Linked DNA regions of Homo sapiens. The protein of the gene in region 2 purifies or fractionates together with the protein of the main gene of each other region. This does not show direct contact. Each region holds a gene or a part of one and is shown on either strand. Other genes may lie near its edges. The genes, in order: CELA3A and DMAC2.

The links.
Region 1: the proteins of DMAC2 (region 2) and CELA3A purify together in Homo sapiens (co-immunoprecipitation; one large-scale study listed by IntAct). This does not show direct contact.

The regions. Positions count from the first base shown.
Region 1 is NC_000001.11:22,008,022-22,011,831, forward strand, and holds part of CELA3A (chymotrypsin-like elastase family member 3A preproprotein), read left to right. Parts: intron 1-1,683; coding exon 1,684-1,836; intron 1,837-3,810. UniProt on the Homo sapiens protein: Efficient protease with alanine specificity but only little elastolytic activity.
Region 2 is NC_000019.10:41,436,809-41,441,050, reverse strand, and holds the start of DMAC2 (distal membrane-arm assembly complex protein 2), read left to right. Parts: upstream 1-1,138; 5' UTR 1,139-1,151; coding exon 1,152-1,169; intron 1,170-1,513; exon of another isoform or gene 1,514-1,541; coding exon of another isoform or gene 1,542-1,577; intron 1,578-2,636; coding exon 2,637-2,833; intron 2,834-4,242. UniProt on the Homo sapiens protein: Required for the assembly of the mitochondrial NADH:ubiquinone oxidoreductase complex (complex I). Involved in the assembly of the distal region of complex I.

The DNA.
Region 1 (3,810 bases), on a different chromosome or scaffold from region 2:
CACTCGCCTGTAGTCCCAACTACTTGATAGGCTGAGGTGGGAGGATTGTTTGAGCCTGGGAGTTCAAGCTCACAGTGGCTATGATTTTTGCCACTGCACCCAAGCCTGGCGACACAGCAAGACGTTGTCTCTTTTTTTTTTTTTTTTGAGACAGGATCTTGCTCTGTTGCCCAGGCTGGAGTGCAGTAATGCCATCATAGCCCACTGTAGCCTTGCCCTCCTGGGCTCAAGCAACCCTCCAATGTCAGCCTCCCAAGCAGCCAGGAGTACAAGTGTGTGCCACAATGCCTAGCTAATTTTTAAATTTTTTGTAGAGATGAGGTCTCACCATGTTGCCCAGGCTGGTCTCTAACTCTTGGGCTCAAGTAATCCTCCTGCCTTGGCCTTCCAAAGTGTTATGTTTACAGATGTGAGCCACTTTCCTGGCCAAGACCTTGTCTAAGAAAAAAAAACAAAGGCTGGGCGCGGTGGCTCACGCCTGTAATCCCAGCACTTTGGGAGGCCGAGCCGGGCGGATCACGAGGTCAGGAGATCGAGATCATCCTGGCTAACATGGTGAAACCTCGTCTCTACTAAACACACAAAAAGTTAGCCGGGTGTGGTGGTGGGCGCCTGTAGTCCCAGCTACTCGGGAGGCTGAGGCAGGAGAATGGTGTGAACCCAGGAGTTGGAGCTTGCCGTGAGCCGAGATCGCGCCACTGCACTCCAACCTGGGTGACAGAGCGAGACGCTGACTCAGAAAAAAAAAAAATACTATCAAATACCCTCATTGTATTGTAATTGAGTATGAATTAATAATTAACTATGGTGCCACTAATAAGAACTATGTTTATCGAGTGCTTCTTCTCTACTGGATATCGTGCTAAGATCGTGCATCATCTCATGTAATTCCCTAGGCTCTTGGACAGATACTACTATTCCCTATCACAAATGAGTCAGCTGGCTGGGCGTGGTGGCTCACACCTATAATCCCTTTGGGAGGCCCCGGCAGGTGGATCACCTGAGGTCAGGACTTTGAGACTAACCTGGCCAACATGGTGAAATCCCATCTCTATTAAATATGGCTGGGTGCAGTGACTCACGCCTGTAATCCCAGCACTTCGGGAGGCTGAGGCGGGCGGATCACGTGGTCAGGAGATCGAGACCATCCTGGCTAACACGGTGAAACCCCGTCTCTACGAAAAATACAAAAATTAGCCGGGCGTGGTAGTGGGCACCTATAGTCCCAGCTACTTGGGAGGCTGAGGCAGGAGAATGGCGTGAACCCTGGAGGCAGAGCTTGCAGTGAGCTGAGATCCTGCCACTGTACTCCAGCCTGGGCGTCAGAGTGAGACTTCGTCTCTAATAAAAAATAAATAAATAAATAAACAAAAATTAGCCGGGTGTGGTGGCAGGTGCCTGTAATCCCAGCTACTTGGGAGGCTGAAGCAGGAGAATCACTTGAACCTGGGAGCCGGGAGACGGAGGTTGCAATGAGCCAAGCTTGCGCCACTGCACTCCAGCCTGGACAGCAGAGCGAGACTCCATCTAAAAAAATAAAAATAATAAATGATAAAAAAATGAGCGAGCTAAGGCTCAGAGGTGTCAAGTAATGTCAGAGTTTCTTGAAATCCCTAGAATTCAGAACCAGTTCCGTAAACCTCAGACATGGCTCAGCCACCCACTCCTCTCTGACGGTTCCAGGGTGACTCTGGAGGACCCCTCAACTGCCCCACAGAGGATGGTGGCTGGCAGGTCCACGGTGTGACCAGCTTTGTTTCTGCCTTTGGCTGCAACTTCATCTGGAAGCCCACGGTGTTCACTCGAGTCTCCGCCTTCATCGACTGGATTGAGGAGGTGAGGAGGGCAGGGCGGCCCGGAGGGCTTTAGGGTGGTGGCTCTTCTGAGAGGTGACAGGTGAGAAACATCGGATCCTGGGGAGGGCCTGAAAGGATCCTAGAAGCTCAGTGGGGAAGGGCCCTTGGGGACATTCCAGAAAGGCTTGGGGATGTTTTCTGATACAGTGTGACCCCAGGAACTTGATGGCTTCTGGGTGGTGCTTGGAACTACAGCTGAACTTCCTTATTTCAACAAGTATTTATAAAGTATCTCCTCTGGTCTTGTCCTCTCTTGTCAGGGAGGATAGAGAGACATGCCAGACAAGAGGCTGCCTGGTGGGGGACAGGTGATTACATGAATGAGAACGATGCAGTCTGATGAGAGCCGAGAGAGGGGAGTCCAGGCCCCAGACTTCATCTGGGGATGGGTGATCAGAGAGGACTAATAACGCTCATGGTAACAGTAATAGCTAAACAACAAAAAAAAAGAGAGTAATAGCTGGGCATGGCATAGTCATGCCTGTAATCCCAGCACTTTGGGAAGCAGAGGCAGGTGGATCACGAGGTTAGGAGTTCAAGACCAGCCTGGCCAAGATGGTGAAACCCTGTCTCTACTAAAAATACAAAAATTAGCCGGGCATGGTGGTGGGTGCCTGTAATCCCAGCTGCTTGGGAGGCTCAGGCAGAGAATTGCTTGAACCTGGGAGGTGGAGGTTGCAGTTAGTCGAGATCATACCACTGCACTGCAGCCTGGGTGACAGAGCGAGACTCCGTCTCAAAAAAAAAAAAAAAAAAAAAAGAGTAATAGCTAGCTGGGTGCAGTGATGCCCACCTGTAGTCCCAGCTACTTGGGAGGCTGAGGCAGGAGGATCGGTTGAGCCCTGGAGTTCTGGGCCATAGTGCGCTATACCCATCAGGTTCTGCACCAAGTTTGGCATCAATGTGGTGACCTCCTGGGAGTGGGGACCACCAGGTGGCCTAAGGAGGGGTGAACTGTCCCAGGTCAGAAACAGAGCAGGTCAAAACTCACATGCTGAAAAGTAGTAGGATCACACCTGTGAATAGCCACTGTACTCCAGCCTGGGCAACACAGCAAGAGCCTCTCTCTTAAAAAAATGAAAATAAACTAAATAAAATAAAACAGTAGTGCTTGCTTTGGCAGCACATGTACTAAAATTGGAATGATATAGAGATTAGCACGGCCCCTGCGCAAGGATGACATGCAAAGTCATGAAGCCTTCCAATAAAAAAACATTTCTGGTCGAGTGCAGTGGTTCATGCCTGTAATCCCAGCACTCTGGGAGGCCAAGGCCCATGGATCACCTGAGGTCAGGAGTTCAAGACCAGCCTGGCCGACATGGTGAAACCCCATCTCTACTAAGAATACAAAAAATTAGCCGGGCGTATTGGTGCATGCCTGTGGTCCCAGCTACTCAGGAGGCTGAGGCAGGAGAACTGCTTGAATCTGGGAGGCGGAGGTTGCAGTGAGCCGAGATTACGCCACTGCACTCCAGCCTGGGTGACAGAGCAAGACTCCATCTCAAAAACAAAAACAAACAAACAAACAAAAAAACAGTGATGATTTATAGACCATTTAATCCCTTGGTTCCCTGACCCATGTTAAAAAAATATATATATAAGGCCAGGCACGGTGGCTCATGCCTGTAATCCAAGCACTTTGGTAGGCCAAGGCAGGTGGATCACAAGGTCAGGAGTTCGAGACCAGCCTGGCCAATATGGTGAAACCCTGTCTCTACAAAAATATAAAAAAATTGGCCAGGCGTGGTAGTGCGTCGCTGTAATCTCAGCTACTTGGGAGGTTGAGGCAGAAGAATTGCTCGAACTCAGGAGGCAGAGGTTGCAGTAAGCTGAGATTGTGCCACTGCCCTCCAGCCTCGGTGACAGAGCAAGACTCTGTCTTAAAAAAAAAAAAAGGCCGGGCGTGGTGGCTCACACCCGTAATCCCACCACTTTGGGAGGCCGAGGTGGGCAG
Region 2 (4,242 bases):
TTTCCCCTAGATCTTTGAATGGCTCTTTCCTTATCATTCACTTCTACTTCAATGTCACCTCTTCAGAGAGGCCTTTGCTGATGGCCCTACACCCAGTCACTTTTTTTTATCTGCTTCTCATCAAAATTGCCTTGCTGATTCCTTTGTTTCTTATTCATCCTCTCCCACATCCATCCTCTCCCAGCCCAGAATGTTGACTTCCTGAGAGAGGGACTGGGTCTGTCCTGCTCACCATGGTAACCTCGGCATCTAGAACAGTGCCTGCCATCACGTGGTAGGTGCTCAGTAAATATTCTTGGAACTAATGAATGAATAATTCTATCCACAAGACTTCACAATGGCTCTTCATGCTGCGATCTAGCTTTCAACTCCAAACTGGTCTTGAGATCTCACCTCAGTCTCTAACCTTGACATCTAACCTCTTCACCCACTCTCTTACCTGACCCTAATTTTTAAAAATGACGTGGTCAGCTTTTCAGCCCCCTCATTCCCTGTTTTTAGGAGGTAGTGAGTGGAAGCTGGAAGAATAAGAAAGCTTGGGGAGACTGCAATTGCAGTCAGGAAAGAAAGGTACTCTGCCGGGAAGAACACCCCATCTTCTCCTAGGGAAAGATTGTGGAGTCCTGGGGTTTGTTTTGTTTTTCAATTTTTTGTTTTAAGAGACAGCGTCTCGCTCTGTCACCCAGGCTGGAGTGCAGTGGCGCAATCACAGCTCACTGCAACTTCGACCTCCCCGGCTCAAGTGATCCCCCCGCCTCAGCCTCGTGAGTAGCTGGGACCACAGGCGTGCACCACCACGCCCGGCTAACATTTTATTTTTTGTGGATATAAGGTTGCCCTATTTCTTTGTGGAGATAAAGGCTCCCCTATGTTGCCCAGGCTGGTCTCGAACTCCTGGCTTCAAGCGATGCTTTCGCCTCGGCCTCCACAAAGTGCTGGGTTCACAGGTGCGTGAGCCCGACCTGTGTCTCGTTTTGAAGCTCAGGGAGAGGGCGCTGTGAGCAATCCCTAAACCCTTTAAGAGTAAAAAGTGCGTGCACCTTTAAGAGGACGGTTAGAAAACGCGGGGCGTGGCCACAGGAGAATAAGTTCGCGCTGAACCAGGAGCGTGGGATAAGACCGGCCCCTTCCGGTTACGAAACCTTAGCAAGATGGCGGCTCCCTGGGCGGTAAGTGACCGGAGTTCCTAGAGCCCCAAATTTGAAGTCCGCTCTACAGCCTCCGCATTCAGGGCCTCTGTTGGCGGCCACGAGAGCAGAAAGCCGTGAGGCAGCAGGCTAAGCCTGGCAAGCCCCGTACTGGGAGTGCAAACCTGTGGCTAGTGGGGGCCAGGAAGGATCTGTGAGGGTCGCAGGCGGAGGAGACGCTTTAGCGAGCGAGAGGAGGCAGGGACTTGGCTGAGAGTATCCAATGGGGATGAGGGAGTGGCTGCCGAAGAGCGACGCGACTAACCAATCAGAGGGAGGGATGACACAAGGAGCTAATGGACAGGCAAGGGTGGGGCCTGTAGGATAAGAGAGCTTGGAAGGGATTGTTCGAGGATGTGGGATTTGGTCTTAGAAGACCGAAGGATGAATGTAAGGAAAGTTAGTGGGAGATTGACGAATTTTTACAGAAAACTCAAAAGCATGATGGGTGGGGGAACCAAGAGGTCAATTTGGAGGTTCTAAGGGCATGATCTGGGTGAAATTAAGAGGAGAATTTGAGATATTCTTTCAGAGGATTTAAAATCAAGGAATGAATTTAGGGAAAATTAAAGAGGTTGGCAGCTTTAAACTTTTGAGGAAAATAAGGGTTTGGGTAAAATTATCGAGATAATTTGAAAAAAAAAAAGAATTTGGTTAAAGCAAAGAGAAATTGGGGTAGATTAAGAGGAGACCTTGAAAGCAAAATTGAAGAGTTTGGGGGCTTCTTCCCATTGGCCACACCCCTCGACTTTCTTACTCTCCTCTTCAAAGCTCATGCTTTTTATACCCTTCTCGGTTCAGGGGTGTCCAATCTTTTGGCTTCCCTGGGCCACGCTGTTCGAAGAAGAAGAATTGTCTTGGGCCACACATAAAATACACTAACCATAACTGATGAGCCAAAAAAAAAAAAAAAAAAATCACAAAAATATCCTCCTAATGTTTTAAGAAAGTTTGCATGTTTGTGTTGGGCTGCATGCAGGCGGCGGGTTGGACAAGCTTGGTTGGTTTTAGGGATTGCTCAGAGCACCCTCTCCTTGAGGTTTGGAGATAAGTTTTTAAGATTATATTCTGGGGAAAGAAAGAAGTCATTTGGGAAGACCCCAGCAGAAGAATTGGGTAATTAAGGGGCAAATCTGTGGAAAATTAAGAGGTCAAATAATGCAGGTTTTGAGTGATAAGGGTTTGGGGGAAAGTTAGAGGAAGAATTTAGGAAAATCAACAATATATGGCTAGTCGAGAAAATTTAGGGTTCACTAAGGGGAGGAGGAACTTGGAAAAAACATGGGGAAATTTTTGGAATCTCAAAGACAGTTTTGAAGTTTTGAAGGAAGAACTTAGGGTGAGTTGGGAAGCAGAGGGATTGAGGTTCATGGAGCAAGAACTGGGGGATCCAGCTCTGTGTCTCCCAGGAGGCTCCAGGCTCAGCTCCTTTCCTCTCCCCCTCCCCAGTCCCTGCGCCTGGTCGCCCCCATGTGGAATGGGCGTATCAGGGGCATCCATCGCCTGGGTGCGGCAGTGGCCCCAGAGGGCAATCAGAAGAAGAAAAGGACAATACTCCAGTTCCTGACCAACTATTTCTACGATGTGGAGGCTCTGAGGGATTACTTGCTCCAAAGGGAGATGTACAAGGTGCATGAGAAAAATCGGTGAGAATCCCTGGTCTGCAAGACCCTGTGGAGACCCTGGCCCACCAGAGCCCAGGTCCTGTCCTTGCCATTCCCAGGCAGCACTGTGGCTTCCAGTGCCAGCCTTGATGTCTCTTGCAGCTCCATCTCCAGGCTGTACCCTTCTCAAGGACTCCAGCTCACATAGGCAGTTTGCCACCCACCAGCTCCACTCAGAGTCTAACTGGCATCTCAAACCTAACATGGCTAAAGCCAAACCCTGATTTCTCCCCTAAAAACATCTGCTCACTCCCAAGCCTTCCCATCCCAGTAAACACTGGTGCTGCCCACCCAGTTGTTCAGGCCAAATTCTAAGGAGTCATCCCTAATTCCTCTCTTTGCTTCCCTGCCCTCCACATCCAGACCATCAATAAAATACTAGAATATCTCAGATTTGACCAGTTCTCACTGCCTTCACCATTCGTAGCCTGATCCCTTATAGTTGAATCACTCAATAAGCTAACTGGGTTTTTGTTCCCATACTCTTTTTTTTTTTTTTCTGAGATGGAGTCTTGCTCTGTCTCCCAGCCTGGAGTGTAGTGGCGCAATCTAAGCTCACTGCAACCTCCACCTCCCAGGTTCAAGCAATTCTCCTGCCTCCGCCTCCCAAGTAGCTGGGATTACAGGCGCCCGCCACCAGGCCCAGCTAATTTTTGTATTTTTAGTAGAGATGGGTTTTCACCATGTTAGCGAGGCTGCTCTCGAACTCCTGACCTCAGGTGATCCGCCTGCCTCGGTCTCCCAGAGTGCTGGGATTACAGGCATGAGCCACCACACCCCGCCAAAATTTGTTTTGTTTTGTTTGAGACAGAGTCTCACTCTGTCGCACATGCTGGAGTACAGTGGTGTGATCATGGCTCATTGCAATCTCCACCTCCTGGGTTCAAGCGATTCTCCCGCCTCAGCCTCCCAAGTAGGTGAGATTACAGGCAGGCGCCACCACACCTAATTTTTCTATTTTTAGTAGAGATGGGGTTTCACCATGTTGGCCAGGCTGGTCTCGAAATCCTGACCTCAGATGATCCACCTGCCTCGGCCTTCCAAAGTGCTGGGATTACAGGCGTGAGCCACCACACCTGGCCTGTCCCATAGTTTTTTATAATCTACAAAGCAGCTGAAGGAATCTTATCATCACCAGCTCAAAACCTTCAAATAAGAGCCAATCTCCAAGGCCTAAAACATAGCTCCTACTGAGCTTTGAGACCCCCTATCAGGACTCCACTGGCCCCTTCAGCATGACATCCCTATTTCTTATTTATTCAACCATCCTAATTCAAGTCTCTGAGCCTTTATACTCTGTTCCTTCTCACCACTCAAATCCCTGCTCAAATGTCACCTCCTCCAATTAACACCCAAACTCAGTTAGCCTCCACCATCCCCACTCCTCTGCT